Linked DNA regions of Homo sapiens: regions 1 and 3 are each linked to region 2. The links come from fine-mapping of genetic effects on gene expression. A gene starts in region 2. Each other region holds a variant in brackets. All regions are shown on one strand. Distances are from middle to middle. Region 1 overlaps RUNX3-AS1 (RUNX3 antisense RNA 1). Region 2 holds the start of STPG1 (sperm tail PG-rich repeat containing 1). Region 3 overlaps STPG1 (sperm tail PG-rich repeat containing 1).

Region 1 (10,709 bases), 550 kb after region 2:
GAGGGGAGAAAGGGAAGGGCTGGGAAGGCTCCCCAAGGGGGCGGCCATGAAGCTGGGCCTTGAGAAGACAGGCCAGGGTTTCTCACCTTCCACATCCTGCTTAGAGTCAGACAGAAGGCTTTTGCAGAGGAGGAGGAACATTAAATAGTAGTAATTTCTGGCATTCCATGAGGGCTTGTCTGTGCCGGGCCCTGTGCTGTGCACGTGATACACACTACCTCATTAAACCTACCCAACATGCCTTGAGGGGGTGCTATTCATTTTCTCCATTTTACAGGTAAGAAAATGAAACACAGAGAGGTGAGGCACCTCTCCCAACGCCACACAGCGAGGAAGTGGCAGAGCCTGGCTGCAGCTGAGGCTTATAGCCGCATTTTACATTGCTTTCTCTCCGAAGAGTGCCTTCCTTTATCCCTGGGAGCCATTGACAAGGGGTCTGACAGTCCCTCTAGTCTTGTGCCTGCTCAGCCCTCTCTAGCCCTGAAAAAACCAGGGCTTGGCGCTGGAGAAAGAGCAGGAGGGTGAGATGTGGAAACATCTGTTGAGTGGCAGGGGATCACGCTGGCGCAGAGGGGCCCGAGCCGATCAGGAGGCCGGCCTGTGCCAGGCCAGTGCTCCCTGTGTACCAGGTGCCACATGCGGGGCTCAGGGTAGGGCCACAGTTGCTCCTCCCAACCACCCTTTGAGGTCAGTGTTACTAGCCCATTTTACAGAGGAGGAAACTGAGACCTTAAGAGGTGAATTAACATGTCAGGTCACCCAGCTACCATGCAGTTTAAGCCTAGATTGTTCTGACTCCTAAACTGTGTGCAAGGCGGATGATTGGACCCCAGGGAGGCAAGGAAAGTCAGTTTTCCTGCTGCTGAATTCAATGTTTTACAAGACCACACACCTCTTTAGACCTCAGTTTCGTCATGTATGAAATGAGGAGGGGAACTCTCTGCCTCCGGGCTCTGATATGCTCCTGGACTGATTCACTGTTCCTTGTTCTTGTGACTTCTCAAAGCAAGACCAGAGTCCCACTCCCAGCCCTAGGCCCGAGATTCCCATCCCCACTGTGTCCAGGGGCTTCAGGAGGTGCTATTTTAGGGCAGATGGCAAAGGCCTGGGCTGTAGATCCACTGAGGGCTAAAGGCAATCTTTCTTCCCTCCACCCCTCCCTTCCTTCCTTCCTTCTCTTTACTTCCACTAAGCAAGGTAGGGAACTACTCGCTGAGTCTCAGGGCAGGCCCACGGACTGAAGCTCAGGAGGACAGGGCTCCCCAGTGGCTGCAGGTGTCCCAGCACTGACTCCTAGCAGAGGGGGTGTTTGGGTTCAGTCTGGAAGATTGGGTGAGATTCCCCAACTACGGGGGGTGGGGGCACACTCTGGGTGGCAGATTTGAGGAAGAGTCTGCAGATAAGGCATCCCCAGGAGATGGCAATAAGAGCTGGTGTTGGGGCTGCCCCACTGAACCCAGAGCCCAGGCCTGTTTCCCCACCCATGGAGGAGTCCGGACTGGCTCAGTGGCAAGGCCGGGGTCAGAGGCTGCCACTCTCCTCCTGCCTCTCACAGCCCGCTGGAAGGTCAGGTTTTCAGGCTCTGCTTATCCGTCTCCCGGCCTCCTCCCTCCAGGTAACCGAGGGAGCCTCCGCTTTGATGCGGCCACCTCCAGGCCCAGGCGTCAATGAGCCCTCTATATGACCAGTGGGGCTGCTGGGGGCCTCCAGCCCGCCAGAGTGGGTGCGGTGAGGCCTGGACACACAGTCCCGCTGTGTGGGGTCGGCTCATGCCTGCCTAGACCCTGTGGGCAGTGGGGGGCTCCTAGGAATGCTTTTCCAGCCTGGGGGGCACTTTGGACAGGCAGGGTGGTCTGGGGAGACGGGTGTGTGCAGGGCAGCCTCAGAAGCCGCCATCAAAGGGACCTAGCAGACGTGGCGCCAGGCAAGCGCCATAGTGGGCACGGAAGGGCTGGCGGTCAGTCTGTTCCTCTCCCAGGGATGGCGGGGAGGGGGAGGCCCCATGGACACATGTGCTCAGGGTGACCAGCCATCAGGGGTTGCCTGGGATGAAGGGGTTTCCTGGGACGTGGAGCTTTCAGTGCTAAAACAGAGAGTCCCCTGTTATTGGAACTTCCTGGACCTTCGGAAAGGATACAGTGACTGACCTCTCTGGTCTGGGCAGCCTCCTCCCTGTCCGGTGACCTCTGAGTCAGACCATCTCGGCCAGACCTGCCCAGGGCCATTTTGTCCACCCCCTGCCTCCACACAGGCCTGCCTCATACCCAAGAGTCCACTTTCCATTTCTCCCAGGCATCTTCAGGGGAGGAGCTGCCGGCCAACTCCAACCACTGCTAGGGGGACCTCGGCCAGACCCACACCACGCTCCCAGCCCTCCCTGTGGCTCCCGAGCCAGCTCATACTTTCCTGCTTCCACACCTTTGCCCAGGACGTTCCTTCTGCCTGGAACATCCTTTCCCTGTCTTTGTTACCTCTTTACCCTTAGGGACCCAGTTTCCAAGTCACTCCTCCAGAGGACTTGTTCTCTCTTTCCCAAGGCTGGGCTAGTACCCCTCTTTGAACTCACAGCCCTGGTTCTTCTCCCAAAAAACCTTTGTCACGCCCCAGGGCAATTTTCTGTTGACCCATCTTTTTCTACACCAGATGGTGAGCTCTTAGGATGGAGATCCTGACCCAGTTTCCCCCGGGCTCCCAGTACAAGGCCATGCTCATGGTGTTCATCAAATGGAAAATGCTTATTGAGCAACTACTCTGTGCCAGGCATCATGCTCCTTTAATTCTCTCCATAGCTCTGCAAGGTTGGTGTAACCCCTACAGATGAGGAAACCAGAGACAGAGAAGTGAAGTAACTCATGCAGGTGACGGCAGAGGGCAGAGTCAGGACTTGAACCTGGAGAGCCTGGCTCTAAAGCCCAAGCTGGAATCTCGATACTCTACACCTCGATAAGTTTTTGGGAAATGACTGACTAAACAGATGAACGCGTTTGCCCCCCCGCCGCCCCAGAGCCCCCTTAAAGCCTACATGTGGCAGTTTGGGCCCATTTCCTTGGCTTCCCTCCCTGGAGGGGCACCCACTGCCAGTGTCCCTGGTGAGTGTTTGCCTGTGGGGGTACAAGTGAGGGTTCAGCAAAGGTGACCTGGTGTGAGGGGGGGGTGCCCCAGGGGGTGCAGAGGAGGGCCTCATGAGGCAGATTCAGAATGAAGGTTCTGGCCCCCAGTGGAACCGTGCATGGGCAAGGGGTCCTCAGGGCCATTGGCCCATAATTGTCAGACGGGGAAACTGAGGCCCAGAGAGAGGAAGGGACTTGTCCTTAGTTACACAGAGTGTCTGGATCACAGCTCTTAGGTCTCAGCTTCCCCATTTGTCACACAGGGAGAATAAATCCCCCTTGTCCTGCCTGGGGGTAGACCCCAGGGGGCCCCTGTGCCCTCTCACACCTTCCATTCCAGCTTCTAGAATTCCACCATCCATGCACCAGCCCTGAGGGTAGGCGTTGCCCTCTTCTCACCTCCTGCTCACGCCTCTACTGCAGGATGGGAACCAAATGCCTCTCCACCCTTTTCCCACACCCCTTCTCTCCACAGTGAACTGAGGGGAGTTTCTGATCCCTTAGCTCAAAGTCAGAGAAACTGAGAGGGGAGGGCTGGGTGGGAGCCGTGGGAATGTCATGCACAAGCAGTCGGACTCTCCAGGGGTCTGGATCTCTCCCTTGCTGCCTTGAAGGCCCCTGCACAGGCTGTGGCACTGGCTGAGTACAGGTGCCTGAAGGCAGAGGCATGGATGGGATGCTTCATTCTCAGCCTGTTTTTGCCAGTGAAGACAAAAGGGAAGTCATCTTCCGTTGGTCTATGGGGACCCTGAGGTAGTAGGAGCTCGGTGATAATTCTAGGGACCACCCTGGGTTGTCAGGTGGGGGAGACAGAGAAGCCCACATAGGAGGCACCAAATGCAACTCACTCGTGCCCTTTTACTCATGAGAGAACACGGATCCAGAGATGTCAAGTGACTCAGACACAGTCTCACAGCACACAGGCGGCAGAGGCAGGTAGGGGACTGGGCTTCCCTGGCAGCAGTCCCCAAGCCTGCCTGAGAGGCACATCAGAATCGCTTTAGGGGATTTGCAAAACCACACCTGCCCAGGCCCAAACCCTAGAGATTCTGATTCCGCAGTCTGAGGTAGGAATGGAGAATCCTCCACAGCCTGAGGTAGGAACTGGGAATCCAGTGTTTAAAACTCTCTAGGGGCGGTGATTTCAGAAAACCTGCTGGCTCCATCACACTTTGCTCAGGGACTGAGATGGGATGGCATTTGGAAGACACAGGTAGGAGGAAGAGGAGGCAGTGGGGGGCACAGGGAGACCCTTCCCCTTCTGGTAAAAGCCTGTGGACGAGAGAACAGCCCGAGTAAGATTCTGAGAACCCGAGACCCGGATGGACCTGGAGTTTTTGTCTTGCGTATAATTTAGGGGGTCTGTGACACTGGGCTGGAGATAACCGTGTCTTTCCTTTCCCTGGCCTCTAGCTGAAATTTAGCATCATATTCCATGGCGATTTTCCACCAGTGGAAATCACAGGTGTTCTCTGGTATCACAGCGGGGTCAGGGATGACCTGAAATATTGTTCATGCTCATCACAACTGCATGGCCCACCGCGGGGTCTTGTCACTCAGTGAGTTCTTGAAGAGGCACAGACAAATGGAGTTCAACAAATGGAAAACGTGAGTCAATATGTCACCAGCTTGCTTTCTGAGTTTGACAATGGTATTTCCATCGATTTCTTTTCCTTTGTAATCCTTTGGATTTTGTCTTACGCGTTTAAAAACGCAACTCCGAGGAGGAACCTGAAGGTTCCCTGAGACTGCCAAGGGTCGGTGGGTTAGGGACCCTGTAGGGGGCAGCGTGGGGTTGGCACCCTGCAAATGGGACCCTGGGGCTGCGTCTCTTTGAGGAAGGAATTGGCAGCTGGAGCCCTGTAAGCCTCCAGGGATGGGATTTGGGAGACAGGCCCCCATGGCGAGCACGTCGTGAGCAGAAATGAACAGGAGAGAGAAGGCTGAAGAGGGGAGACAGGTCTCCACAAAAGTGGAGGGAAGGCCCTCGGGCCACAGACCCCAGATCCAAACATCTCCACAGACCCTAGCCTATGAGGCGCCTTCTGTGCCACTGCTGGCCAGGATCAGCCCGCTCTGCCCAGCGGCCTCCTGTCTCTGGGCGCATACATGACATGTTGGGCCAAAGCCACCTCTCCCTTTGTGCCCTTTGTGCTACTGCCAGCCACCTCCCAGGCTCCGAGGATCAGGACCCAGCCCAGGCCGACCGGGGCTCTAGCCCTGTCTCCCAAGGTTCCTTTGTTTTAAACCCTACATTTCTCCATCTTGCGCACGGAAGGAGAAATACAGATTACAAAGACCCGGCAAATGGATTTTATAAACTCTTATTTTCTTGCCACAGAACTGCCTTTAATTAGCTCCGAGGACTACAAAGGGAACAACGTTATAATAGCAGCAACTCCAAGGAAGCAGCCACAGCTCTCAGCTCTCAGACCTGGGGCTGCCGCTCATCATCAGCTACAGCTAGGTTTGATGGGAGTGCCCCCATTTCAGGGGACAGCAGGCCCCCTTCACTCCCCGACTCAGTCCCCATCTGCAGCAGCACAGCCTTCCTTGGCCTCACCAGGGAAGAAGAACAGGCCCCGCTCTCAGACAAGCCTTCCCAGAAGCCTGAGGACTCAAACACCCAAATGTGTCTGGGTCCCTGCCCCGAGCCGGCCACCCAGGCAGCAGCCCTGAATCACTCGGTCAGCCAGCGGCAGGGCAGGCCAATGG[G/A]CTGGAGGGTAGGCAGGCAGGCAGACCCACCTCTGCATCTCTGCTGACTGCCTCGGCTGAGGAAAGGCAGCACCAGCCCCCAACCCTGAAGTTCTAGATCTCATGCAGCCTCTCTGTTCTGGAACCATCCAGAGGCACTGCCCTTATACATGGTCCACCCCCAGGCTCAGACAATGAGAATTCCACAAGCAGAGGGGACTCTATTTGGGGCACAGAGAGGTTAAGTAACTCCCCTCCTAAGGTCTCTCAGCAAGGAAGCCACTGAGCCGTGGGACTTGAGCTCAGGGACTCTTGATCCCCAGTCTCAGGTGTCACAGCCCCATCTGGGCTCCTGCTAGGGAGGAGGAAGGCAGCAGGGGGTGTCTGAGGCCAGGGTGCATCAGCCCTAAATGCCAGACAGAGGCAGGAGAAGTCTCCCCATGAGTCCCAGCCCCATTAGAGGCTCCAGGTCGGGGATCCCAGACCCCCTATCCTTGCTGGGAGACACAACCCAGAACTCTGCATCCCTGCAGCCACCAAAAAAGGCAAAAGCTGCCCAGAAACACTTTCTCCTCTTCCGTGGCCAAATCCACGAACTTTCTCGAGGTCTGTCCCCCTGCCCCGTGCAGGTCCAGCTTCAGTGCAGCCCAGCTCTGTGCAGTTTTCCACAAAAGCCTGTGGCTTCCTTCTCCTCCCTCTGCTTCTGATACCCCAGGAGTTACACACAAAATGTTGGCGGTGGTCTCCAGGAAGACCCCTGCATCCCACAGCTCTCCCCAGAAGTTGCCAGCAGTGACCTCCTGAGCCCAGGTGGGGAGTCCCAGGCAGGACAGGGGCTGGGGCTGCAGGCCCTGGGGCCCTGTTAGTGAAGCAGCAAGCCGAGGGTCCCTGAGAGTTTCCCTTGGCCCCTCTGAGGGCTGCCCTTTGAGGTCTTGAGGTCTTGGAGTATCCATCGCCCCCACGGCTTACTGTCCCCACCAGCGGAGGATGAAAGTGCCACAGCGATGTTCCACGCCAAGAGACCACAGAGACCACCAACCCCTCTTCCCACCTCAGGCTTTCAGAGGCCAGCGGATTTAGGCGGACAGGCTGTGCGCTTGAGGGCAGCCAGGGCGGTCAGTGGAGGGACGTGGTCCGGGGCCTGGCCACAGCTCCCCACCCAGGGCCCTGGGCTATTGTTACTCACCGCGGATGAAGGTCGGCGAGTAGGTCGGGAAGGAGTCGAAGATGCTGTTCGATGCCATGCCCCGCTCTGAAGAAGGCGAGAATTTTCAGCCCTTCAGGGGGTTGGGTTGGGATTCACTTGGTTGGCTGTTGTTTTATTTTTTTTTCCTCTAGCTACTTTTGAAAATAAAAGGGGGGGGTGTTGCTTTTTGTTGTTTTTTGTTTTGTTTTTGTCTCTTTTTTCCCCCCTGCTGCTACGAAAAAGAAAAAAGGAAAGAACGCGAGAGTGTGTGTGAGTGAGAGAGAGAAAAAAATCCCCAAGGAAAGTAAGTTTCTGTTTGTACCCAAGAATTTGGATTCCCGGTCCCACAGGAATGTCTAGCCACAAATTCTCAACAGAAGCGTATGCAGAGTGTATCATTAGATGGCGGGAAGGGGCTTTCGGCAGCCAGGGTGGAGGAGCTCCGAAGCTGACAGAGCAGAGTGGGCCGCCTCCAGTGCCACGGGGAATGAATGAATGAGGCTTACCCTTGACAGAGCCCAGGCTCTGGTGGGTACGAGGGCGGCCGGGGGTGGGGAGCACCAGGAGCCAACCAGCTCCCGCGCAGGGCCCTGGAGGCGGCAAGGGCCTGGCCTTGTGGTTCTGTGGTTGAGGGACCAGGCCTTCCCAGTGTCAACCCAACCTCAGCTCACAGGATGCGAGAAGCCTGCTCGCGGCCTTGGCTCATTGGCTGGGCCGCGGTCACCTGGGCCGTGATGTCACGGCCTTTTAGAAGATCTTGTGGCTGCCTCTCTTTTTGGAAAAGAAAAAAAAAAAAAAGAAAGAGAGAGAGAGAGAGAAATAGAAAAGTGATGGCTTTTATTTGTGAGGCTGGCCTCAGCACGCGGCCCAAGAAACAGAACTGAAAGCGGTTGCAGTGGGCGTGGCCAGGAGGGTGGTTTGGCTCCTGGGTGGGAGACTCCTTCTTAATTAAGGCCAGCATTGGCCTGGGCGGGCTAGGAGCCCCGCGGGCCCCTCACCGAGTGCCCAGAGCCCGGATCCACCAGCGGCCGGAGAGCTCCCTGCCATGCCACCTCGCCCCTGGGCTGCGGCTGACTCCCTGCCATTGTCCACCACCATTGTTGCCAGGGAGAGGTGTCCACATGTGTGGCTGGGTGGCACCTCTGGGGCTTTTATGGGAGTTGGGACTAAGTACAACGGGAAACACATGAAGTGGCATTGCCAGCACTCACGCCTGGCCTCGGCCTGCCCACCGAGAAGGGCCTTCCTGTGGAAACCTGGTGGCCTGCCCGCACTGGGGGGCCCTCTGCAGGGCTGGGGGCTGAGTCCCCAGCATGTCATTCAGGGCCCTTTACTCCTCTTGTTGCCACCTGCGCATCCCCTTGGGGGTCTCTGCCCCAGCATGATGCTCGGGAGCTTCCCTGCCTCCGGGCCTTCGCTCATGCTGTTCCCCTCACCAGAAGCGCCCTTTGTGTCTTCATGTCCTTGAGGAGTCAAGGCCCAGAGAGGCTCAAAAGTAGAAAAGTCATGAAGACGATTGAACCCTATACTTGCATGTTCCCCAAAGTCATGTCAGGATGGGAGAGAGGGTGGAGAGTGGGGGAAAGGTGGCGGCTTTTACCATTTCCCTTGCAAGCTCTACTCTCCCATTTCACAGGCCAGGCTGCGAGGCCCAGGGTGGTGACGCCAGCTTGTCTAAGGTCATGTGGTATTCTGGAATGGGATTGGAACTTCAGCCTCTGACTCACCAGCCCCGACCTTGGGCATGACACCAGAGTGCCCTTCCATGCCCTTTAAATGAAGACTTCAGAAAGTCCCTCTGCAGCCTGGCCACCAACCCCTGGCCTCTCCCAGGGACCCCAGGCTTGGGGCTAGAACCTAGCACCAGCCTCTGACTCACAGTAGCCTCTGTAGGCCAACAAGGATGGGGTGGGGACATCCCTGGAAGAGGATGGGCTGGTCCAAGGTCCCAAAGAGACTTGTTTCTGCCCAAGGCACATGTGCAGAAGATGGCCTTGGAAACGCTCACTCAGCCTCATCTCAAGCCTCATGAAGATTCAGTCTTCTGTCCCTGAATGGTGGGTCAATTGGTGCTGAGGGTGGGGGTGGTGGGGACAAGAGTTCTAATTTGGCCAGAGAGGAAGCAGGTTTATGGTGACAGCCACAGAGCTCTAGAGTCAGATTTGGCTTCCAGCCCCAGCTCTGCTGAATCTGAGCAGCCAGACCCTGGGGAAAGTCACTTCCTTTCTCTGGGCCTCAGTTTTCTTCCCTGTAAAATGGGGATAACACCTTCTTCAAAGGGACAGGCACGGGGTGAGGGCATCATAAACATTGGTTTCCTTGGCTGAGCCTCCATGACGCAATTTGGGCTCCGTTATGAGTCAGCTCAAGTAAGGAGCTATGACAGTCATGCAGGGGGAGAGGCTGCCCCGCCCCCACCCTGTGTTGTAAACTCATCAGCTGGCCAGCCTGCATGGGACCCTCAGGGGTCAATGGCACAGGGGGGACCTGCCAAGGGGCCTTGACCTCCTGGTTGAATTTGATGCCTTTTGGAGTCAGCCATCTGTGAAATAGATTGGAGAATGACACAGCTGGGAAGACCCCCCCTTATACAGAAGCCGAAACTGCGGCCCCCAGAGGAGCAGAGACTCATCCAAGTTCACCCAATGAGTCAGTGGAACCCAAGCCCCTGCTTCCCAGCCCAGGAGCTGTTTCCATTCCACCAACACCGCCTCCAGTTTTGAACATACCACCCTACGTGCTTTGCTGTTTTTTCCACACCTAAGAGTGGGCCCCCCCCAAGCCCCTATAACTTGATCACCCTGAGGGGCTTCCCCCTCCCTGGGAACCTGAGTCCAGGCCCAGGAAGGGGAGGGAATTCAAGAGGCTGTGCACGGCCCAGTGATCCATCTGTGCACCGAGTAGTTCAATGCATTCTCGGGGCAATGTGGTGAATTGGAGCCAAGCTTGGTCCTTGCCGCTAAGGGGCTTATCATCTCTACATGCCCCCTCATAAGCATGTGCTAAGCTTTAAACAGCCCTGGGGAAGCTGCCAAGGGAAGCAGAAAGGACAAGGAGGCTGAAACCAGCCATACCTGAAGCCTGCTTTGTTTCTTATGAACTGTGAGATTCTGGGCAAGAGGCTTTACTCTTCTGAGCCTCGGTTTCCTCGCCTGTGAAATGGAGCCAACTGTAGTGCCCACCTCCCAAAGTCATAAAGAGGACTCAATGAGAAAATAATTGTGAGTGTGCTTGGCACATAGTAGGTGCTCAATTTCCAGGGACTCCCTTCCCTTGAAATTCTGATTGTGCATTCCCCTGTCGTGCAGTGGGCAGTCAGGCTTCCTCTTGTTCTCCACTGAAAAAAACTTAAATCAGGTTAATAAAAAAATATGGTTGAAGTAGGGAATCATAAGAAATATTATATAAAAATAAAAGGGAATCATAAAAATAGTATCTTAAACCCTTCTTTTAGCTTTAAACTTATAAATATGCATTAAATGGCCTTCCTCTTGTTCTTCTAGCTTAACAATTTCCAGTTTGGGTTTCTTTTTTCTTTTCTTTCTTTTTTTTTTTTTTTTTTAGAAACGGGGTCTTGCTCTGTTGCCCAGTCTAGAGTGCAGTGGTGCAATCATAGCTCACTGTAACCTTGAGCTCCTGGGCTCAAGCAATCCTCTCGCTTCAGCCTCCCAAGTAGCTAGGATTACAGGTGTGCACTACCACGCCCAGCTAATTTAAAT
Region 2 (10,260 bases):
GCAATCCCTGGCAACCACCATTGTACTTTCTATTTCTATTACTTTGACTATTCTATGTGCCTCTCAGCAATTTTATTTTCATGGTACCTTGGCATAATTTTCTTTATGTCTTTAATATTTGGGTTTTAATGAACTTCTTTAATCTGTAGGCTACAGTTTTCACCAAATTTGGAAAATATTCAGCCATTATTTTTTCAAATAGTTTTTCTGCCTCTGCCACCTTCTTTCCTGGGGCTACAGTTATATTAGATCATTTCATATTTTCCCAAAGGTTATTGATATTCTGTTCAATATTTTTAAGTCTCTTTTCTCTCTGTCCTTCATTTGGGTAGTCTATATTGTCATGTCTTCAAGTTCACTGATTTTTTTTTTTTTTTTTTGACGGAGTCCCGCTCTGTCACCCAGGCTGGATTGCAGTGGCGCAATCTCGGCTCACTGCACCCTCTGCCCCCAGCTTCAAGCAATTCTCTGTGTCAGCCTCCCGAGTAGCTGGGTACAGGTGCCTGCCACCATGCCTGGCTAATTTTTGTATTTTTAGTAGACACGGGGTTTCACCATCTTGGCCAGGCTGGTCTTGAACTCTTGACCTTGTGATCTACCTGCCTTGGCCTCCCAAAGTGCTGGGATTACAGGCATGAGCCACCATGCCCGGCCAAGTTCACTGATCTTCTGAAGTCTCATCAGCTGCAAATCCCATCCATTGCATTCTTATTTCAAATATTGTATTTTTTCTTTCTAGAGGTTACATTTGGGCTCTTTTTCTATGTCTTCTATTTCTAGCCTCATCATGTTCAGTTTCCTTTACATCCTTAGGAATATTTGTAAGATTCATAGTAGCTGCTTTAAGGTTTCTTTGTACTAATTCTATAATCTGTCATTTTTAAGTCTGTTCCTATTGGTTGATTTTCCTCTCAGATATGGGTCATATTTTCCTTTTCATGTCTGGTAATTTTGTATTAGATATTGGACATTTTGAATTTTACATTGCTGGGTGCTGGGTTTTGATATATTCCTGCAAAGGATGTGGCACACTTTTCAGTAACTTGTAGATCCATCTGACCCTTTCAAGCTTTTAAACTTTGTTATGGCAAGTCCAGAGCAGCTTTTATTCTGGGAATAATTTATCCCCACTACTAAGGCATGACATTTCTGTGAACTCTACCCAATTCCTATCTAATACCATGTCTCTGCATTCTGGTTTATGGTAACATGCAACATTCCCAGTTCTGTTTAAGCCCCAGAAATTGTTCAGCCTATGGCCTTTTGATGGGTATTTCCCCAGTCTTAGTTTCTTCTCATGCATGTGCAGATTACTGCTCAGCCAAAAACTTAAGGAGACCTCTCTTCAGGTTTCTGAACATTTTTGGTGCAGCTCCTTCCTTTAGGGTTCTCCCTATAAATTCTAGCCTCTTTGGCCTCTCTGAATTCTTATTTTTATCTTCTCAACTCAGAAATCTAGAATTCATTTGGATTTCCTACAATATGGCCTAAAAACTGACCCCAGTACTAAATGGGGGCAATTGTAGGACTCACCGTGTTTTTCTTCCTTCAGGGATTATTGTACTGTGCCTGTTGTCCAATGTGAGTTGTTTAACACATTTAACTACTTTTTAGTTGTTAATAGCAAGGGCACAATTTAATTTCCATAGCAATTATTTTTTATTAGCAGACTTGGGTTTCATTTTGCCCATTTTTTTCCCTAAGGAACTTATACCATTTATATATACTAATGAGTAAAGGATTGAATAAATGATTTTACACTCTACTGGTCCTTTTCCATGCAGTATTTTTCCTTACTTTATTCTGTAATCCTCACAGCAGCAATTTTCAACTTTTTTTTGGTGGACAATCTATACTAAAAATTTGATATTTAATAGAATTATTGACAACATTCTTCAAGAAATTAAGAGATTCAAAATAACAGAAACAAATCAATAATGATCAAAGCACAATCACCAATCCAGCTTAACAAGGTCTTTTAGTATCTATAAAAGCAGCCCCTAGGGCTGGGTGTGGTGGGTCACTCCTGTAATCCCAGCACTTTGGGAGGCCGAGGTTAGGCGATAGCTTGAGCTCATGACCAGCCTGGGAAACATGGTGAAAGTCCGTCTCTACAAAAAATATAAAAATTAACCAGGCATGGTGGCATGTGCCTGTAGTCCCAGCTACCTTAGGGGCTGGGGCAGGAGGATCACTTGAGCCCAAGAGGTCAAGGCTGCAGTAAGCTATGTTCGTGCCACTGTTCTTCAGCCTGGGTGACAAAGTGAGACCCTGTCTCAAAAAATAACCAAAGCAGCCACTATTCATTTACCACCCCTCAGTGTTATACCATTTTAGTAAGAACCATCTACTGCCCTAGCTTTAATAAAGCTGTTATTAAAAAATGTATTAGTGTTCTGGAATTATGAGTGATTAGAAAAATATTAAGCTTCCTGTTTTACAGTAGTCCACCCTTGTCTGTAGCTTTATTTTCCAGTTTCAGTTACCCATGGTCAATTGTGGTTTGAAAATATTAAATGGAAAATTCCAGAAATAAATAATTCATCAGCTTTAAATTATGCACCATTCTGAGGCATGTGATGAAATCTCCTATCGTCTGACTCCACCCTACCTGGGATGTGAATCATCCTTGTCCAGCACATTCAAGCTGTATTTGCTACCCCACCATTAGTCACTTAGTAGCCATCTCGATTGTCAGATCCACCATCACGTTGTCTCAGTGCTTGTGTTCAAGTAACTCTTACTTTACTTAATAATGGCCCCAAAGCACAAGAGTAGTGATGCCAGCACTTTGGACATGCCAAAGACAAGCTGTAAAGTGCCTCCTTTATGTGAAAAGGTGAAAGTTCTTGACTTAATAAGGCAAGAAAAAAACTGTATTCTGAGGTTGCTAAGATCTACAGTAAGAATAAAACTTCTATCCATCAAATTTCAAAGGGGAAAAAAATTGGTGCTAGTTTTGGTGCTTCACCTCAAACTATAAAAAGCTGTTGCCACAGAGCATGATAAGTGCTTAGTTAAGATGGAAAAAGCATTAAATTTGTGAGTGGAAGATATGAACAGAAACAGTCTGATTGACAGTAATCAGTTTGGGTATTATCCACTGTTTCACTGGCATCTACTGGTGGTCTTGGAACATATCCCCCTTGAATAAGGGAGGACTACTATAATAATAATGTATGTACACTGTCAACATTTAAGAAAATATGATAAATTACAAAAAAACTTTAAACAATCTGCAATCCATGGCCGAGCGCTGTGGCTCACACCTGTAATCCCAGCACTTTGCGAGGCCGAGGTGGGCGGATCATGAGGTCAGGAGATCCAGACCATCCTGGCTAACACAGTGAAACCCCATGTCTACTAAAAATACAAAAATTAGCTGGACATGGTGGCGTGCACCTGTAGTCCCAGCTACTCAGGAGACTGATGCAGGAGAATCGCTTGAACCCAGGAGGTGAAGATTGCAGTGAGCCAAGATCGCGCCACCGCACTCCAGCCTGGGCAACAGAGCGAGACTCCGTCTCAAAACAAACAAACAAACAAATAAAAAACAATCCCCAATCCTACCACCAAAAGACCACACTGTTAATAATGCTTTCCAGTCTTCTCACTGCATACCTGTGAAGGCAGGATGAGAGCAGGTGCAGGACAGATGTGAACAGAGCACTGCCCAGGTGTGCCTCACTGGTCCACCTGTATAACTGTCCATGACAGGATGGCATGGACCTAGAATCTAAGAAAGAGCAGTGAAGATATACCACTTTCCGAATCAACAACATATGTTTAAGCGATTCCTACGTGGGGGCCAGCGCAGCAGTCCAGAGTATCCAGTCCTGGGTTCAAGGTTATGGCCTGCCACTTAATAGCTCTGATTCTCGATGAGTCACTTAAACTTCTGAGCCTATTTCCTCCTCCATAAACTGGGAGTGATAACAGTACCTTCCTCTTAGGCTGATCCATGTGAAGTGGTTAACACTGCCTATCCTGCAGTAGGCTTGTATTAATGTAGGGTTTTAATATACGCACAGGGATATCGTATTAACAACTTAAAATAATAGCTATCATTTATTGAGCCTGCACAGTCCTAAATGCCTTCTATGGAATACCTTATGCAATTTTTATAATAATCCAGTGAGGTATAATCCCCACTTTTTACAGATGAGAAAACTTAAGTTTGGTGGGGGGTTAAGTGACTTGCCCAAAGTCACATTAGAAGAAAAGTGGAATCAGGCTTTGAACTCAGGAAGTCTGACTTCTACTCACTCCTTAACCTCTATAATAACCTCTCAGGCAGCACACACTAAATATTAACTTGCTAAATTTTGACATTTAGCACCCGAGTGGGTATGATTGGTTTGTTATTATTATTTTTAGAAATAGGATCTTGCTGTGTCGTCCACTTGCTAGAGTGCAGTGGTGCAATCATAGCTTACTGCAACCTCAAACTCCTAGGCTCAAGTGATCCTCCCACCTCAGCCTCCAGAGTAGCTAGGACTACAGACACCTGCCACCACACCTGGCTAGTTTTAAAATTTTTTGTAAAGACAATGTCTCACCTATGCTGCCCAGGATGGTCTCGAAATCCTAGCCTCAAGTGATCTTCTCACCTCAGCTTCCCAAAGCACTGGGATTACAGTGAGCCACCGTGCCTTACCTGGTTGGGTTTCTGAAGTTACAATATTGCATATAGTTTTCAAAATATAAAGCAAATAAGGGATGGCTGGGTGGGGGCAAATATTTGACTCTCTTGAATATTCACAGAATGCTAGGTTTCATCAGAACACAGTTTAAAAACTCCTGGGGGAAGTTCACTGTTGGACAGTTCTAATTGCTAGAAAGTTCCTTCCTGTATCAAAGCTGATTCTCTCTCTCTTTTTTTCTTTTTCTATCCGTCCTAATTCCCACCCTTGGAACCAACTCAAAGTAAGTCTCATTTCTCTTCCACATTGGTGATTTTCAAAATGCAAGTCATAGTCTGTAGTCTTTTGTGAAGTTTTAGTTTGTCATATGCGTGTGTGCATGCTGGGTCACAATATAAAATGCATTTACCATGAGTCACAGTCAAAAGGTTTGAAAGCCACTGTTCTATATGACTATTCTGCAAGAATTTGAAGGCAGTTGTCGTGCCCCACCACCTAAAGACTAATCTTCTTCTCCACATGGGACCTCCCTGGCTTTTGCCACATATCTCCTTGCTGCATGGGGAGCTCCTTTCCTCACCGGACCCAGGCATCGTCCTGCAGTCCTGTCACAAAATTCACGAGACTCTCTGCTCAAACCTTCTTAGGGATGACTTCCCTGACCACCCTCTCTTAAGAAGCACCAACCCATCTCTCTCTAGCCCCTTACTCTGCTTTATCTTTTTCAAAGCACTTTTCACTACCCAACATTATATTGTATGTTTATTACTTTATTTGTTTATGATCTTCCCCAGTAGAAAGTTCAACTCTGAATCTTCAGTCTATTTCCTCACATACAGTATTTGCTCAATTGGCCAGGCATGGTGGCCCACACCCGTAATCCCAGCACTTTGAGAGGCTGAGGGGGAAGGATGGCTTGAGACAGAAGTTCAAGACTACCCTGGGCAACATAGCAAGGCCCTGTCTCTACAAAAATAATAATAATAGTATTGAGAATTTTTAAAATTAGTATTTTCTTCATAAATATTGGTGGAATGAATGAATGAATGAATACTAGAGGTAGACACCTTTTAGCAATTGTGTGTACAGCTGTGCTCAGAATATATTTCCAGCGGGAGTTAGATTCTACAAGGACAGCTCACATGATCACAACTATAGGCACAGTTTCATTTTATCATCTCTTGTGTTTTTAAAAAACGTTATATATGCTAAGTATTACAGTTTACATTATACATGTTACTGTACAGGGTATATAAACATGTACTAAACTATGTATACTGTTACTTTAGATAGAATTTTTTTGGATGTCCTGAGTAGTTTCGTCTGTAGGCGATTTTTATCTACTCAGTTATAAGCATCTTGGAAGCAGCTTACATTTTTTCAAAGCACTCTCAGGTAAATAACCCATTCGATAGTCTTCATAGGCTGAGAAAGTGTATCAGGGAGCTGGAAGGAAATTTAGCGGCGGGCTAGTGACCACCAGGTTCCAATCTCACCCTTTTATTTTACAGATGGGTAAATCGAGGCCCAGAGCAGGGAAGTCGTTTGCTGGGGGACACCCCCTGAGCTGGGGTGAACCTATGAGTAGAGATCAGGTCTTTGGCGTCCACCCACTGCCAGGCACTGAAGCCTCCCAACTTTTGCGCACTCGCGGAGCCTGAGCCAGAAGGGTCGGACGCCCACGCCCCTGGCAGGAGCTCGGTGGAGCAGGCAAGCCCCAGTTGTCACCACTTTTCGGGTGGAAACACCGAGGACACGCCCCGACGCAGGGGCAACTCCCATGGTGGCTTCTTCCCGCCCTCGGGGCTCCACCTAGCTCAGCCCTGGAATTCCGCAAGCACCCGGAGGCCGGGGGGTCTCCGCGGGCGTCCCATGCGGAGGACATGGTGCGCCGTGTCCTCTTCCCCACGACCTCAGGGACCGGTCCCCCCGCCGGAACTGCTTCCTACCTGGTCCGGTCCCGGCAGCTGAATCTGGCCAGCCCAACCTCCCGGTCGCTATGGCACCCACAGGCCTAACATTCGCGAGTCCACCTTCCGCCGTCCGCGAGGTAACTCCAGCCAATGGCATCCTCTGTTTCTTTAACGTGAAAAGTTGTTGACCAATCATTAGAGGCGTTTCAAAGTCCGCAGAGAAGCCGGCCGAATTTTAGGGCTTAGGTTAATTACATCAGGGCCTGTAGCGGGGTGGGGAACTAATAAGAGGTTTATCTAGGCCATGCTTCAAAAATCTTGTGATAAACCAAAAGCCTCAGAATTTTGCTCACTCAAAAATCCTGCTTCAAGGAATATACCTAAAAGAATTAACATTCATCCAAGCCCTGTTTCTTTTTTTTTTGAGACAGAGTCTCGCTTTGTCGAGCAGGCTGTAGTGCAGTGGCGCAATCTTGGCTCACTGCAACCTCCGCCCTCCAGGTTCAAGCGATGCTCCTGCTTCAGCCTCCTGAGTAGCTGGGATTACCGGCGCTCGCCACCACGCCAGGCTATTCTTTTTGTATTTTTAGTAGAGACAGGGTTTCACCACGTTGGCCAGGCTGGTCTCGAACTCCTGACCTCAGGTGATCCACCCGCCTCGGCCTCCCAAAGTGTTGGGATTACAGGCGTGAGCCACCACGCCCGGCCCCAAGCCCTGTTTCTAACAGAAGAAAAAAAAAAAAATTGACATGGGCGACTATACAAGGGCAGCCACTTAGTATTCCAGGAGCCCCTCTTCACACGCTTCAGGGCAGGGCGGTCTCAGCGACCTTGTCACTCCCCTGCTTAAAGTCCTCCAATGGCTCGCCTTTAAATTTAGGGTGAAATCCAAGCTTTTTTTTTTTTTTTTTTTTTTTTGACAGGGTCTTGCTCTGTCGCCCAGCTGGAGTGCAGTGGCGCGATCTCGACTCGCTGCAACCTCCGCCTCCCGAGTTCAAGCGATCCTCCCGCCTCAGCCTCCTGAGTAGCTGGGACCACGGGCGCTCGCCACCACGCCCGGCTAATTTTTAAATTTTTTTGTAGAGATGGGGTCCCACTATATTGTCCAGGCTGGTCTCAAACTCCTGGGCTTAAGTGATCCTCCTGGCCTCCCAAAGTCCTGAGATTACAGGTGTGAGCCACCGCGCCGGCCCCCAAATATGTTATTTATAAACTGTCCCTGGCCCGTCCCTCAGATCGCAGGCCCAACCACGCCCCCAGAAAAATCTCTCACCAGCCCTGCTGGCCTTCGGGCAGTTTCTACAATGCACCAACTCGTTCCTCTCCCATGTTCCCAAGGAGCTTTCTCTGCCCCACGATCTGAGACTAGAACTGCCTCTTTCTCATTGTTGATGTCTAGGCCCAAATGACATTTCTTCATACGTAAAACGGGCTTCAAGTCTCACTCATGGCTGTGACGATCTGAAAGCAAATGCGTGTATATGACAACGTGTGAGCGATGAGAAGCTTGTCATCTGTAAAACTCCATGCGCATGTTAATTATCATGGCCGTGATAATTATGTACATTATAGAAACATTAACCAAGCGCTGGGCTCGTTTCAGGACCTTCAGTATTGCTGGGAGGCTTGGTATCCGACAGGTGTTCCAGGAGGGCAGGAAAGGAGAGATATGTTTGGTCCCAAGTCTCGCGAGGGCTCTGGGGAGCGCTGGGTCTTCAAGGACGTTTTGGATTTGAATACTTGGTGAGAGCGTCGGGTAGGGGAACAGCAGGAGCAAAGCCCGGAAGGTGGCTATGAGGATAAGAAGGGAGGACACCTGGCAGGCTGCTAAAACCAGGCCCACCTGCCGGGCAGGTGGAGGCGAGCAACCACCTAAGCTCTCTGGGACAGCGGGAGAGGGGGCAGGGGAGTCGCCGCACCATTCTTCCTGTGGCCGCTAGGGGGTCCCCGCTCCAGGTGAGCGCCAAGCTCTAGCCCCAGGTCGCTCCCTTATGCTTCAAGCAAGCTTTGCAGCGCAGCCAATTGCCAGGGGCTGTCCCGCCTACTCCCCGTCCTCGCAGCCACTTGCCTGCGCGAAATGCCTGCCAACTTCTGACTGGCAGGCAGTCTGGCAAATCAAATCGCGACCTTTGAAAGCAAAACACTGCAGCATCTTGGCAGCTCTGAATTGGGAAGGGATGAAGGAGGCTGTGCCTCCGGGTTGCACGAAGAGTCCGAGTCATTTCTCAGAAGGTTTTGATAGGTGGGCCTTAGAGGAGACGCCGCCGGTGAGTAGTGATTAACACCGGGAGGAAGGGGAATTGAATTTAACCTTCGTTTTTTTCTGGAAAAAGCGAAGTCACCTAACGTCCCCTAGTGTACATACCCTTCCTTCTTACTGTCACCAGCCTCGCCAACCTGGGTCCCGTTGCCTTGGAATGTTCTTTCCAGTTTTGCATCGAGGCCAAGAGGAGCGGGGGCATGGGCTACCTTACTAAAGGTGATGCCAGGCTCTACCAAACCAGGAAGTGACATGGAGTTAACTTTGCCAGAATTTCTCCTCTTCGTGCCGAGCGGCTCGGGCTTCCTGGCGGCAGCAGATGGTGGAGTTAGCAGGTGGGATGAGGGGAGGCGTTCTTGGTCTAAGCCCGCTTCTGGAACAGAGGTGCTGTCTCCTCGAGTTGTAAGTTTCCAGCTCAGTGGGACGGGACGGAAGAATGTAACCTTCTCGTGAGCCAAAGCCGAGGAACGGGAAGCTTGGCAGGGAACTGGCGCTCACCTCCAGAAGCCAGATCGTCGGGTGGTGGGAAAGAGCGTGTTTTATTGATTTGTTCAGAAAGAGGCAAATTCGAATACAGACGCTATGAGCCACGGCTGTCTCATTTGTAAAACGTGCTCTGTGGGATTGGTGAAATCCGTCATCGAGATAAACGGGGTGGGAATGGAAGCAGAGCACCTAGTGAATTCTCATTCCTTCCTTGGGTCAGTGACCACGTGCTCTAATTGTGGGGTGGTTGACAACGCAGAGGTGACTGCTTGCCTCTCGGGCATATGTAGGTCCTGAAGAAATGCTTCGAAATCAGGAAAAGAGAGTCACCAGGTGAAAAGTATGTGTCTTATAAGGGAGTACAGCTTGCAAAGGGTTCCTCCAGGCTTTCAGTCCGGACTCCCACCCAGCTGAGGGAGAGCCTTCAATCTTTGCAGGCGATGCTTCAGAGGCCTGCGAGTTCCTGAGGCAGAGAGGGAAGCTGCTTTTTAAAAGAAAAATTAAACCACAGCAATGCCAACCACCACAAACAAAAGCAAAACCAGAAAAGCACTTGGGCAAACTACTCTGAAGGATGTTAGGAGGCCTGGGTTCCCACCACTCCCTTGATTGACATGTCGCTAAGGTCTGTTGGCTTTCTCTGACCTCCTGTGGGTGGGGCTGAGTATATCTGCTTGTTGAAGCTCTGGAGTTGTGGTTGATTAGGCCTTAGAAAGGCATTCTTGACTGCGAAGGGGCCACAGTGCACCCAGTGCTTAACCAGCCTGCATTTAGTCAGTCGGTTGGTATGTATACAAGTCACTGTCAGGCTCTGGGCTAGATCTCATTTAGTCAGTTGGTTGGTATGTATAGAAGTCACTGTCAGGCTCTGGGCTAGATCTCAGCTGGGAGCAACTGAACAGGGTATTCCGCAAACACCTCACTGGAGTTTGCGCTCCTCAACTCCATGACTGCTTCA
Region 3 (10,709 bases), 48 kb before region 2:
AGGAACTGGCCCGAGGTTATTTGGCTCTTAACTGGCCCAGGGGAAGTCAAACTCTGACTTCCTGCCTTCTTTAATTCTTTTCAACTTCTTTAACAGAACAAAATTTACAAAACTATTTTCTATGAAATTCGAAAAGAAATTGAGTAAAGCAATATTCTTAAAGAAGCAAGGTGTTAGCTTCATGGGGTCTTGTTTTGATCTAGTTCAGGGGTTTCCATAAAAGCAGAAGCCATGACAATTGCGGACATGGTTCTATAGGAGATGAGCAGGGCTTGGGAACTGTAGCCCCAGGTGACCAGAAACTCATGTTGATACTGACTTGGTTAATGAGGGTCCCGTGCACAGCCTCTCTGTTCCTATACTTGGAAAGCCGCTCAGGGGAGCCCATGGTAGTCCAGGTATACCTGAGTTTACTGGAAGCTGAGCAGGCAGATGCCGGCACGTGCACGTGCCCAGGAAACCCCTCGCAGAAGCCCACCTTGGCATGGGTGATCAGAGCGGCAGGAGCTGCCTGTCTCTGTGTGCCAGGTGCCTAGCACCACATACGGCATGGAAAAGTCATTCGGGCAATGCTTCCAGAGGATGTGGTAGAGCAGGGTCAAAGCAGGATCCCTGCCTATGCCCTACCCTCTCTGGAGCTCACCCCTTGTATGGAGCATTTGCATGTTTGCAATGCTGAGTTCTCCTCGACTGACTAGATGAGCCCCAGATCAAACCTCTACAGCCTTGCTGGTGTGATTATCACCACATTTGCAAGGCCAAAGCTAGGAGAATGACCTTCTCCTGGCCCAGTCTGCCTTATGTTAGTCTCACCTGTGAGTATGGAGCTGACGGCATCTCCCCACCTGACTGTGGCCTCTGGGGGCAAACCTGGGGCCCAGGTCATCTTGGCTCCCTCGCACGGGAGCATCGTCAACACTCACAGAAAGGCTGGGTGTAACCAAGCTGGCAGTCATCACAGCTCTGCCTTCATCCTCCCATGCCACCTGCCACACATGTCAGTCCCCAGTGCCACCAGCTTTGGCCATGGTCAGGCTGTGGTAATAGCGAAAGCGCTCTATAGAGAGCTACAAATAGGTCAGGAAGCACAGAGGCCGCCCACTGGACTGAGTCCCTCATGATATTAGCTCCCAGGTAGATCCCAGATGTAACAGGGGATCCCTACTTATGCTTGCCTGTAAAAAGAGTGTGGCGCTAGAAGGTTCAAAAGAGCTGCTCCGTTGGACAGTCCCTGGTTAATTTCATGAACAAACAAGGCATAAATGGGGAAACACCTGGCACTGCCCGCCACGAACTCGCTGCGGACCTGTGGCCCACCTGCTCTCCAGGGCTTCCTCAGCTGTAAAATAACCTGGCCACACTAGACCAGTAGTTTAAATATTTTTAAGAAAAAGAACTTTTCTGGCTGGGCACAGTGGCTCACGCCTGTAATCCCAGCACTCTGGGAGGCCAAGACGGGCAGACCAGTTGAGGTCAGGAGTTCGAGACCAGCCTAGCCAACATAGCGAACCCCTGTCTGTCTCTGCTAAAAATACAAAAAGTAGCTGGGTGTGGTGGCATGTACCTGTAATTCCAGCTACTTGGGAGGCTGAGGCATGAGAATTGCCTGAACCTGGGAGGCGGAAGTTGTGAGCCAAGACCGCACTACTGCACTCCAGCCTGGGCGATACAGCGAGACTCCGTCTCAAAAAAATAAAAGTAAAAAAAATTAATAATAATAAAGAAAAAGAACTTTTCTGACACTCTGACAAAAGCTATGGCCTCCTTTCCCAGAAAATAATGTCTATATGTGCCAATTCTTCAGCCAACTGCAGAGTCACAGACCCCTTCAAGACTATCTTTGAATCTTTTAGATGTTCATGGTCCTCAGTATGAATCCCTGGCCTGGACCATCTCTAAGAGCCCTTTCACCTTAAAAAACAAAACATTTTTGTACTGTGAAAATGTGAACTGATAATGCTTCCAAATCTACCCTCATCCCTGTAACCTATTTGGGAAACAACCTATAAATCAATGGCATTTGATGACCCAAGAATGACAAACAGTTCCAGAAGATTTGGTTTTTACAATCATTTAAAACAATCCTCTGACCTGGGCCAGGCAGGCCTGGCTGAGGCGGCGCCGCTGTCCACCGGCTGGTATTGGACACGAATGATGCACTAGAGATGAAATGCTTGCGGGGGCCTAAGTAGTCCACGATCTCATACTGACCAGGACCTGGGAAAGGTGGCTTCGGAGGCAGAGGCGAAGGCTGAGCAGAGAAGTTCAGGATGGGGTTTTTCCTTTGGGAAAGATAAAACGGGAAGATGTCACTAAGGCAGTCTAGTGGGGAAGGCACAGTTTCTAGACACAGCCAAGACCTGCACAGCAGCAAGCTGTCTGGAAGAGGACTGGTCACGGCACTGGGGCAGAGCCCTAGCTCCACTGGTAGTGAGCTGGGGACCCCTGGATCTGTTTCTTCATCTGCACATGGCAATCATGATGGGACCTACTTTGAGGTCAGGGTTGTCAGGATAAATGAGATGACGTACCTAAAACACAGTACTCAGGATAGGCCTGGCACACAGTGAGAGCTCAGTGTGCATTGCTGGAGATGTGGAGCTAACCAGAAATGGCAGGCCGTGTATATCTCATGTGCCAACTCTGATTGATTGGTAGTGCCTGGCTGGAGTTCTGTGAAAAAAACTGAGGCCTCATATGGACTCAATGGGAAGAGGCCTTAGTGACCCACTTGTGATGCCTGCCATGGTCAGGGAAGAGAAAGAAGCATCCCACATTCCACAGATTTGCCATCCCAAGACCAGCAGGTCTTTAGAGGCCACTGTAACATTGACATTCCAGAATCCTACTAAATATCATCCTGGGGAGGCAGGAGGCAGGAGTGGAAAAGCACCGGGCTGGAAATCAAGAGACTCTGCATAACCCTTTACCACTCACACCGCCATTGTTTTCAAGTCTGTCTTCCCCTCCTTCCAGAAAGGGAGTCTATCTTTTATCTCTGATATTGAGACATGAAATGAAAGACCGGACCTGTACTTGAGTCCTAGCTTGGTCACTAACTCATTCTGGGCCTCAGTTTCCCCATCTGTAAAAGGAAGGGGTTGGACAAGATGACCTCTGAGGTCCCTTCCTGCTGTGACCTTTCATCAGGCCTTGATTCAAAGTTCCACTGGGTTGTCAGAGACTTCTGCGCTTGTTACAGGAATCATGCTACTCTCCCAACCATGTAATAGAAGGGCCGCCTCCTTCTGGCTCACACCCAAGGCTTCTTCTAAAAGGCTTCTCACCAAAAGGGGAGAGGAGGTTCTCCGCACTGAATGGCCAAGGGAGCCTTCCCCAGCTTCCCCCAGCACTCAATGACCAAGGGAGCCAGCCCATCCAAGCAAAGGAGGGGACTTGGGATTCCTGGCCACTGGGGCACTACTGCACTTTAGCCAACAACTTCTTAAACACAGAGAGCTTGAGGGGACCCAAGTGATGTCTTCTTCAACCTCCTTAGTTTTCTAAAAATGTTGGTGTCCGGAGAGACAAAGTAACCGATCCAGTTATAGGCACCTTTGTAGGAATGCTGGCATAGAACTCAAGTGTTTGGCACCTAGCAATATGGAGAAAGCATGATGGCGGAGGGGACTGAGTTTAAGGGTCACACACAAACCTGAGGCTGAATTCTAGTCATGCCACTTACTGGCTGTAAGACAAGGCCCCTGATTTCTCTATAGCTTAGCGTCAGTATACACAGCATTGCAAGGAACAATGACACTAACTTTATAAAGGAGTTACAATGAACAGAGAAAAGGTATGTAAAGCACCTAGTAGAGCACCAGCACATAGTAGGTGCTCAATAAAGGTAGTTGTTATTCTTCTGATGATCCCTGTGTCAGCATCAATGTGTGCTGCTTGGTGACAGACAGGCAACTGAGCCTCGTAAAAGACTGACAGGGCCCTTCCACCCCAGAGTCATGCTGAGGCAGGGGACACCCCCCTGGTCAGAGAGGACACTGAAAGCCATCATAAATGTGCTTGGGCTCACATCTTGTGGTGGAGGAGCAGCTGGCGTGGATGCTTATATTTAGAACAAAGGTACCCACAGGGAAAGGGGGGACATGCTGCCTCCCTGTTTGCTATGAATCTGCATGGAAGAACTGGTTACAGGGTGTAATCAACAACCTCTCCCCTTATAAATAAAAGCTGGCTTCTCCTTGTTCTGGCTTGTGGCTCCCCCTTCAAAACACCTCCAGACATTTGATGAGTTTGTGGCTGGCATCATGGAGAGACAGGTTTGATTCCTGGAAATTACAGCTGGAACAAATCAACCATTATATGAGGTCACCCCATCACTGGTCTGGGTCACTCCAAGCCCAAGATTCCCACCCTGTTCTTTGAGAAAACCATGAGGTGTCTGCTTTCTTAGCCAAGGACAGCCTGCAGAAGGCTGGAGCACGCTGAGTTAATGACTCACCAGTGTTCTTGGCAAGATGGGTTAGAGAGGTTTCTTGTCTTCCACTCCTTCAGTATGCCCAGGAGAGGCTCAGAACCTTCAGCCTAGCACTATGGATCTTTCATGAGCACCAGCCATGTGTGGGATTCTGGGCCAGGCATGCTTGGGAATCCAGGCAGTTCTGTACTAAGACACGGACTTGAGTGTCCTTAAGGGCTTGACAATCCGCTGCCAGCAACAGCCATGACTGGTGACAACTTCAGGCAGTACAGGCTTTGCACTCAGACAGAGCTGGGTTTGAATCCCCACTTCCCCGTTCAACAGCTATGTGTTCTTAGAAAAGGCTCTTAACCTCCTTAAGCCTCAATTTCCTCATCTGTAAAACAGTGGAA[A/G]TAATACCTACTACCCAGATTGTTAGGAAGATTGTGCTTTACTTGTAACATTTGTTTAAAAACATGAAATCTGTTCGAATAGAGGTTAAAATAAAAAACTGCATTGAAAGCAGAGAGAAAGAGACAGAGACAGAGGGACATTAATTCCAACAAGATGAATCCAGAAATCCATCCAGAAATCCAGAAAATCTTCAGGTGGGGAAGAGCATTTCCAGCAGAGGGAACAGCAGGAGCAAAAGCATGGAATGGGGAAAGCTGTAGCTGTTATGGCAGGAATTGGGACACAAGGAGACAGACGCTGAGCACCTAGACTGCCTTCAACCCTCCATTCACCAGTGATTTCCTGGGTTGTTCACTTGCTTCTGATACTCCCCACTTACAAACCCTGATGAAAACTTAAAGGCAAGATCTATTTATGGCCTCTCAATCCAGCCTAATCTCCCATGTCCTGCTGCTTCCGTTTTACCTTCCAGAAACACCCAACACAACACAGTTCAGCAACTCCATGCCTTTGTCCCTGCTGTTCCTTCTGTGAGAAACACCAACTTTCCCTGCAAACTCGAATTCAATTCTTGACGTTCTCACTTTCTTCCAGGGAAACTTCTCTCCTCCACCCACGCCTGTCTCGCCACCCCCCACCTGACTGTCTTGAATGTTCCCATCCTGTGACTCAAGTGAGGAACATGGGTTTTGGAGATGGATTTTGGAGGCAGAGGGACCTGGATTCAAATCCCAGCCCCACCACCGTCAACAGCCTGCACTTCACTGTAAACTCGGAATGACACACCCACCTGGAGGAGAGGTGGAAGGACGACGGCAGGTCACATCTGAGAGCTCTCAGCTCAGAGTATGTGGCCCCTGAATACATTCTGGCTATTACTTTGCATTTAAAATGTTGCATTTTCTATGGCTTTTACTTGCCTAGCTCTTTAAGGGAAGGTATTGTGTCTTCCTCAGCTTTGAGGCCCCTAGCCCTATCCCGGGAACATTTGCTGAAGTGCAGAGAAAAGCAGAGGGCTGGCAGCATGTAAAGGAGCCCAGGCATCTGAGGCCCACATGACAGTTTCATCCTCATCCAGGGCTGGTCCCTCCATGTCGAGGTGGGGCTGACAAATCACAAAGGTCAGGCTGGATCAAACCCAGGGCAGCCCACAGTGCATTGTGACCAGGGCTTTTATGAGCCTCATTGCTCAGTTATAAAAGCCAACCTGGCCCTGCCCCGTGGAAAGAAAACATCTATCAAAGGCTCTGAGTTGGCCACAACTGGATTAAGTGTGTTTGCAGCTTCCAATGTGAGCTGTTTGCAAATCACCTAAGAATAATGAATGTCTTAGAGGACTCAGCAGGCCACTTGGGGAAAGCATCTGAGACCCTCCAGACACTCCCAGGCACACATTCACTCGCCTCAGGGATTCCCAGGGTTGGGAGGGATAAAGGGGCAATTTTTCTCATCATTAAAGGGCAGCCGATTGCCTCTGGGGTGGAATGCAGTATCTGTTTAACAGGGTAGCGGGTGACAGATTACAGCTGCTTGGGAAGAAGCATCCCATATCTAATTGAAAATCCCAGGGGAAGTTAGGGTGGGTCCAATCTAATTACCAAAATTGGAGTGGGGCCAACGGGGCTTGATTTTTCAGCTCTAGCTGTGACAAGACAGCGTGTCTGTGCAAATCCAGTGGCTTAAAACTCCAGGAAGCAGATCAAGGGTTAGAAAAATGGCCCTGAGTGTTGCACCTCCTTGCTGGGGAGCATGAGTTGGAAGGCATTGCCTAGGAGGAACTATTTTGATCTCCAAAACTCTCACCCTGACTCACCCTAAGTGATTGAGTCATCACTGTGACGGATATTGAAGACCTCAGAAGCGAAACCTTGGCTGATACTTCACTTTGCTTCTGAAGACACCCTGGAAGCTGAGAAGTCCTCTTAGCTTTGAGTCAGCAAGGTGGCCATGGCCAAGGAACACCCGATGGCATGACCTTTAGCTAAGGAGCTCAGAAATGCCAGTGCTAACAAACAGCCAGCCCCAAGCACAGCATCCGCCCTGCGGGGCCACACTAGAAACCCTAGGAAGACACAGAGGACCCGCTCACCTGCTTTGATAAAAATACAAGTTACCATGTGAATTTTGTGGGTTATCTCCTTTTATCCTTACAACCACATTATGAGGTGTTCTTATCCTGGTTCACCAAGGATGACTTTGAACCCACTGGGAGTTAAGTGACCTCCCTTCCCCCAGGCCCACAGGGCTGGTGAGCAGGGAAAGTGGAGGTTCCATGGTACTGACTTTGGGGCCTACGCTAATCAATCCACTGCCCACGCTGCCTCCATGGCCTCTTCAGGGGACGTGATCAGCCGTTCCCTGCCCTAATGGTGGCCTCCTGAGCTTTGGTCATATCCAGCCATCCTCTCACGGCTGGGCTTTACATTTTTTGGCCAGTAACATGAGACTAAAAACTCCAGGGAGAATTCATATCTGCACTGATGCTTCCTGCACCCTGAAGAAAGCAGATCCAGAAAAGCATTTCTGTAGCTGTAACTCTGCCCAAGAATGGGAAGCCCATCAACTCCAACCCAAGACAGATGAGGGCAGGTCTCCCCCTGCATGGCACGCGTGTGTTCCCGAGAAAGAAACATGGCGGCAAGTCACCGCCGCTCCACGTAGCCGTGGAGAGCTAAAGAGGATTAGTTCTGATGTGGACAAAGTCCTAAGGGAAGGTGCATGCAGATGGGGTCACCTCAGGGGTCTACTGACCTCAGGAACCCGTGTAGCTCCTGTCCCTCTCTTCCCTCCAGGGACACAGGAGAAAACAGAACTGGAATTTGAGAAACTGGATTTTGGATATTTCCTCAACACTCTGATATTCAGCTGTCTTTTCTTTTCATTACATCATTTTCTTCATCATTCATCGGGAACAGATAAATGTTTTTTTTAGAATAGTCCAAAGCCTACCAGTCTTATCTTCTTGCTTTCCAAATAAAATGATAAATTTCTTAGCTTCATCTTTCCCACGTTAATTTTAAAATACATAATCTGGACCTCCTCTGTGGGTCCAGGCTGGCTCCACGTTCGTTGTCCCCTGTGTGCTCTCCTGAGTCCATGGTGAGCAAACCTGGGATTCTGATGTGTCAGAAATGCAGACACCCTTCTTTCGCTTATAGAGAAATGAAGACCCAGAGAGGTGCCCAGAGCAGCCCCAGACCACAGAGCCAGCTATACAAATGTCGTGCTATAGAGCCTGGGGCACCATCCCCTCATCAGGGTGAACCCAAGTTTAGGAGACAGCGGGTTAATAGGTTCCTTTACTGCAGGCCTTCTCAGAGCCTTTAAGATGCCTGTGCAGACTGCGATGTTCTCAGGGGCAGAGGGTTACGATGCAGTGCTTCTCAGACTTATTAACCAAAGACCTTTTATTTGTGAAGCATTGACAGAGAGCCAGCGAGCCCTAGAAGCCCCAGACACGCAGTCCCGCTGCACTGCCCAGTGGGAAGACGGCCCCATGGGTTGTACATGGCCATACACCCCTGGGGCCACCTAACCCGGCATTTTGCTGCAGGCTCCTCCACCTGGCTTCGAGGCTGTTCCCAGATGAGGTTGGCTGGAGGCGTGGTGTCCTGTTCACCTGAGCCTCCAGTACAGAACTAGAAATCTATAGAGTCTGCTGACTGACAAATGCAAACGCCATAAAATAAGAACGATCTCAAACCACCTGTTCAAACTTGAGCAAAAGCCAGAAGATATTTCTCCAGATAAAGCAGTTAAAAATTGAGCATCCTCCACTCTTATGTTATTTCACCATTTTCCTTGAAGAAGCTTCCAAATTTGGGCTGGGGGCTTGAGCTGCCATGCCAAATAACAGCTGTATTGTATAATATAGCCTAGTAGGTCTATAGGATATACAATAACCACAGCTATCATTATAAGGGTAATAGCTATTTTCTTTCTTTTTGAGACCAAGTCTTGCTCTGTCACCCAGGCTGGAGTGCAGTGGCATGATCTCGGCTCACTGCAACCTCCACCTCCCCGGTTCAAGCAATTCTCCTGCCTCAGCCTCCTGAGTAGCTGGGATTACAGGCGCCCTCCACCACGCCCAGCTTTGTATTTTTAGTAGAGATGGGGTTTTGCCATGTTGGCCAGACTGGTCTCAAACTCCTAGCCTCAAGTGATCCATCTGCCTTGGGCTCCCAAAATGCTGGGATTACAGGCGTGAGTCACCATGCCCAACCGGTAATAGCTATTTTCCAACATCTTCTCATCGAATCTTCATGGAATCCCTACGAGATAAGATCCTTATCTCTACTTAATAACATAAAACTGAGGCTCAGAGAGGAGAAGTCTCTGGAAGGTACAGAGCTGGGATTCATACTCTGGTCGGCCAACTCCAACACCTGTCCTCTTGACCACTCTTTCTCTGGCAGAGTAAGGGAATAGTTACTTGTAGAGATGCCGCATGCCAGCCTGGAGGCGGGAGGTCTCTGGAGAGAGACTTTCCAGAGACAGAGCTGTTCCTGGAGACTGGCCTGCCCCAGCCCCTAGCCCTACAGCCTGTACAAGGCCAGCCTGCAGAGCCCTAGACCTGGAGGGCAGAAGGGACTCCTCTGGTGGATTCCAGCTGAGGTCTCAATCCCCTCTCCAGATCTTAAGTTCGACTTGGCAGATTCACAACTTGCACCTCTCTCTAACTGTGGTCCCCTTGCCCTAGGCTGATGATCAGACTATGCCCAATGTTGGCAGCCTCCCTGGGTTGCCTGGACTTCTGACCCACTGTGGCTATGGCTCCTAACACCTGCCTGATCTCTCTGGAGGGGCCCAAGAGGATATATTGTTGGTCCCACCTGGCCAGCCCTCCCAGTGGCCAGCTCTGTCTGGAGGGGCTACGCATGGGTGAGAGCTGAGATGGTAACAGGAGGACTAACCCTAACTGCAGTTAGTTCCAGAAGTTCTAGAACCATTCGAGAAATAAATAAGCTCTGTGAGTATTTGAGCCTCTTAGGTGAGAGTAATATAAAATGTGTAGGATATTAAACAGGGTAACAAAAATCCCTGTATTTACTTTTAAAAATCTGTGTTAATTTTGAGTCACCAGCTGCAATGCCAATGCCAAACATATATTTTATTTACTTTTTTTGTTTTTTGAGACAGGGTCTCACTCTGTCACCCAGGCTGGAGTGCAGTGGCGCAATCTCGGCTCACCACAATCTGGGCCTCACAGGTCCAAGTGATTCTCCTGCCTCAGCCTCCCGAGTAGCTAGGATTACAGGCGTGCACCATCATGCCTGGATAATTTTTGTATTTTTAGTAGAGACAGGGTTTCACCATGTTGGCCAGACTGGTCTCGAACACCTGATCTCAAGTGATTCGCCCACCTCGGCCTCCCAAAGTGCTGGGATTACAGGCGCAAGCTGCTGCGCCCAGCCAAACATGTATTTTTAATTCTGAAAGCAAAATCCTACGAGGCAGGAATTATTCCCACCTTACAGATGAGGGCATGGAGGCTCAGAGAGGTTAGAACTCTGCCCAAGGTCACAGAGCATAAAAACAGCAGAGCTGAAGTACAAATCCAGCAGGTATCACCAACTCGAAAGTCAGGGCTTAAACTTCCATCGGTATAAAGCTATGAGAGCTTGACTGCTTCTGAATGTCCTGCCACTCCAGCGAAGATTTTATGTTACAAAAATAGAACAATGTCAGCACCAGGGGAATCCAGCATCACAGGGAATGAGGAAAGACTTAGTCCTGAGCCAATTCCCTGTGGCTCCTCAAGTTGGCTGTGTGGACTTGGGCAAATGTCCCGCCAAATCCGAAGCCTTGCTTCCTCCTCTATGGGGTAAGAGTAACAATTCTTACAACAGGATTATAATAATAATTGAATACAATTTTA

What was found. PIP is the estimated chance that this variant, and not a neighbour inherited with it, causes the effect.
Region 1: its variant is fine-mapped to the expression of STPG1 in hippocampus (GTEx, PIP 0.96).
Region 3: its variant is fine-mapped to the expression of STPG1 in prefrontal cortex (CommonMind, PIP 0.95).

Annotation. Positions count from the first base shown.
Region 1 is chr1:24,957,524-24,968,232 of GRCh38, forward strand. It overlaps RUNX3-AS1 (RUNX3 antisense RNA 1), which reads left to right. Exons shown (of 4, transcript NR_183341.1): 3 at 4,524-4,718; 4 at 5,452-7,185. It also overlaps a transcript of RUNX3 not described here. Among named protein-coding and RNA genes, the nearest start is that of RUNX3-AS1, 32 kb to the left of the region's middle. RefSeq lists enhancers at 1,358-1,547, 5,664-5,793, 5,994-6,053, 7,725-7,834, 8,195-8,294 and 4 more and silencers at 3,998-4,077, 7,455-7,654. The variant G/A (reference allele first, on the strand shown) is at 5,826.
Region 2 is chr1:24,407,082-24,417,341 of GRCh38, forward strand. It overlaps STPG1 (sperm tail PG-rich repeat containing 1), which reads right to left and starts at 6,701. Exons shown (of 9, transcript NM_001199013.2): 1 at 6,593-6,701. It overlaps NIPAL3 (NIPA like domain containing 3), which reads left to right and starts at 8,721. Exons shown (of 12, transcript NM_020448.5): 1 at 8,721-8,823. RefSeq lists an enhancer at 6,197-6,316.
Region 3 is chr1:24,358,760-24,369,468 of GRCh38, forward strand. STPG1 (sperm tail PG-rich repeat containing 1) reads right to left here. Exons shown (of 9, transcript NM_001199013.2): 8 at 2,092-2,282. It also overlaps a transcript of GRHL3 not described here. Among named protein-coding and RNA genes, the nearest start is that of GRHL3-AS1, 42 kb to the left of the region's middle. RefSeq lists enhancers at 6,058-7,257, 6,460-6,754, 6,519-6,568. The variant A/G (reference allele first, on the strand shown) is at 4,831.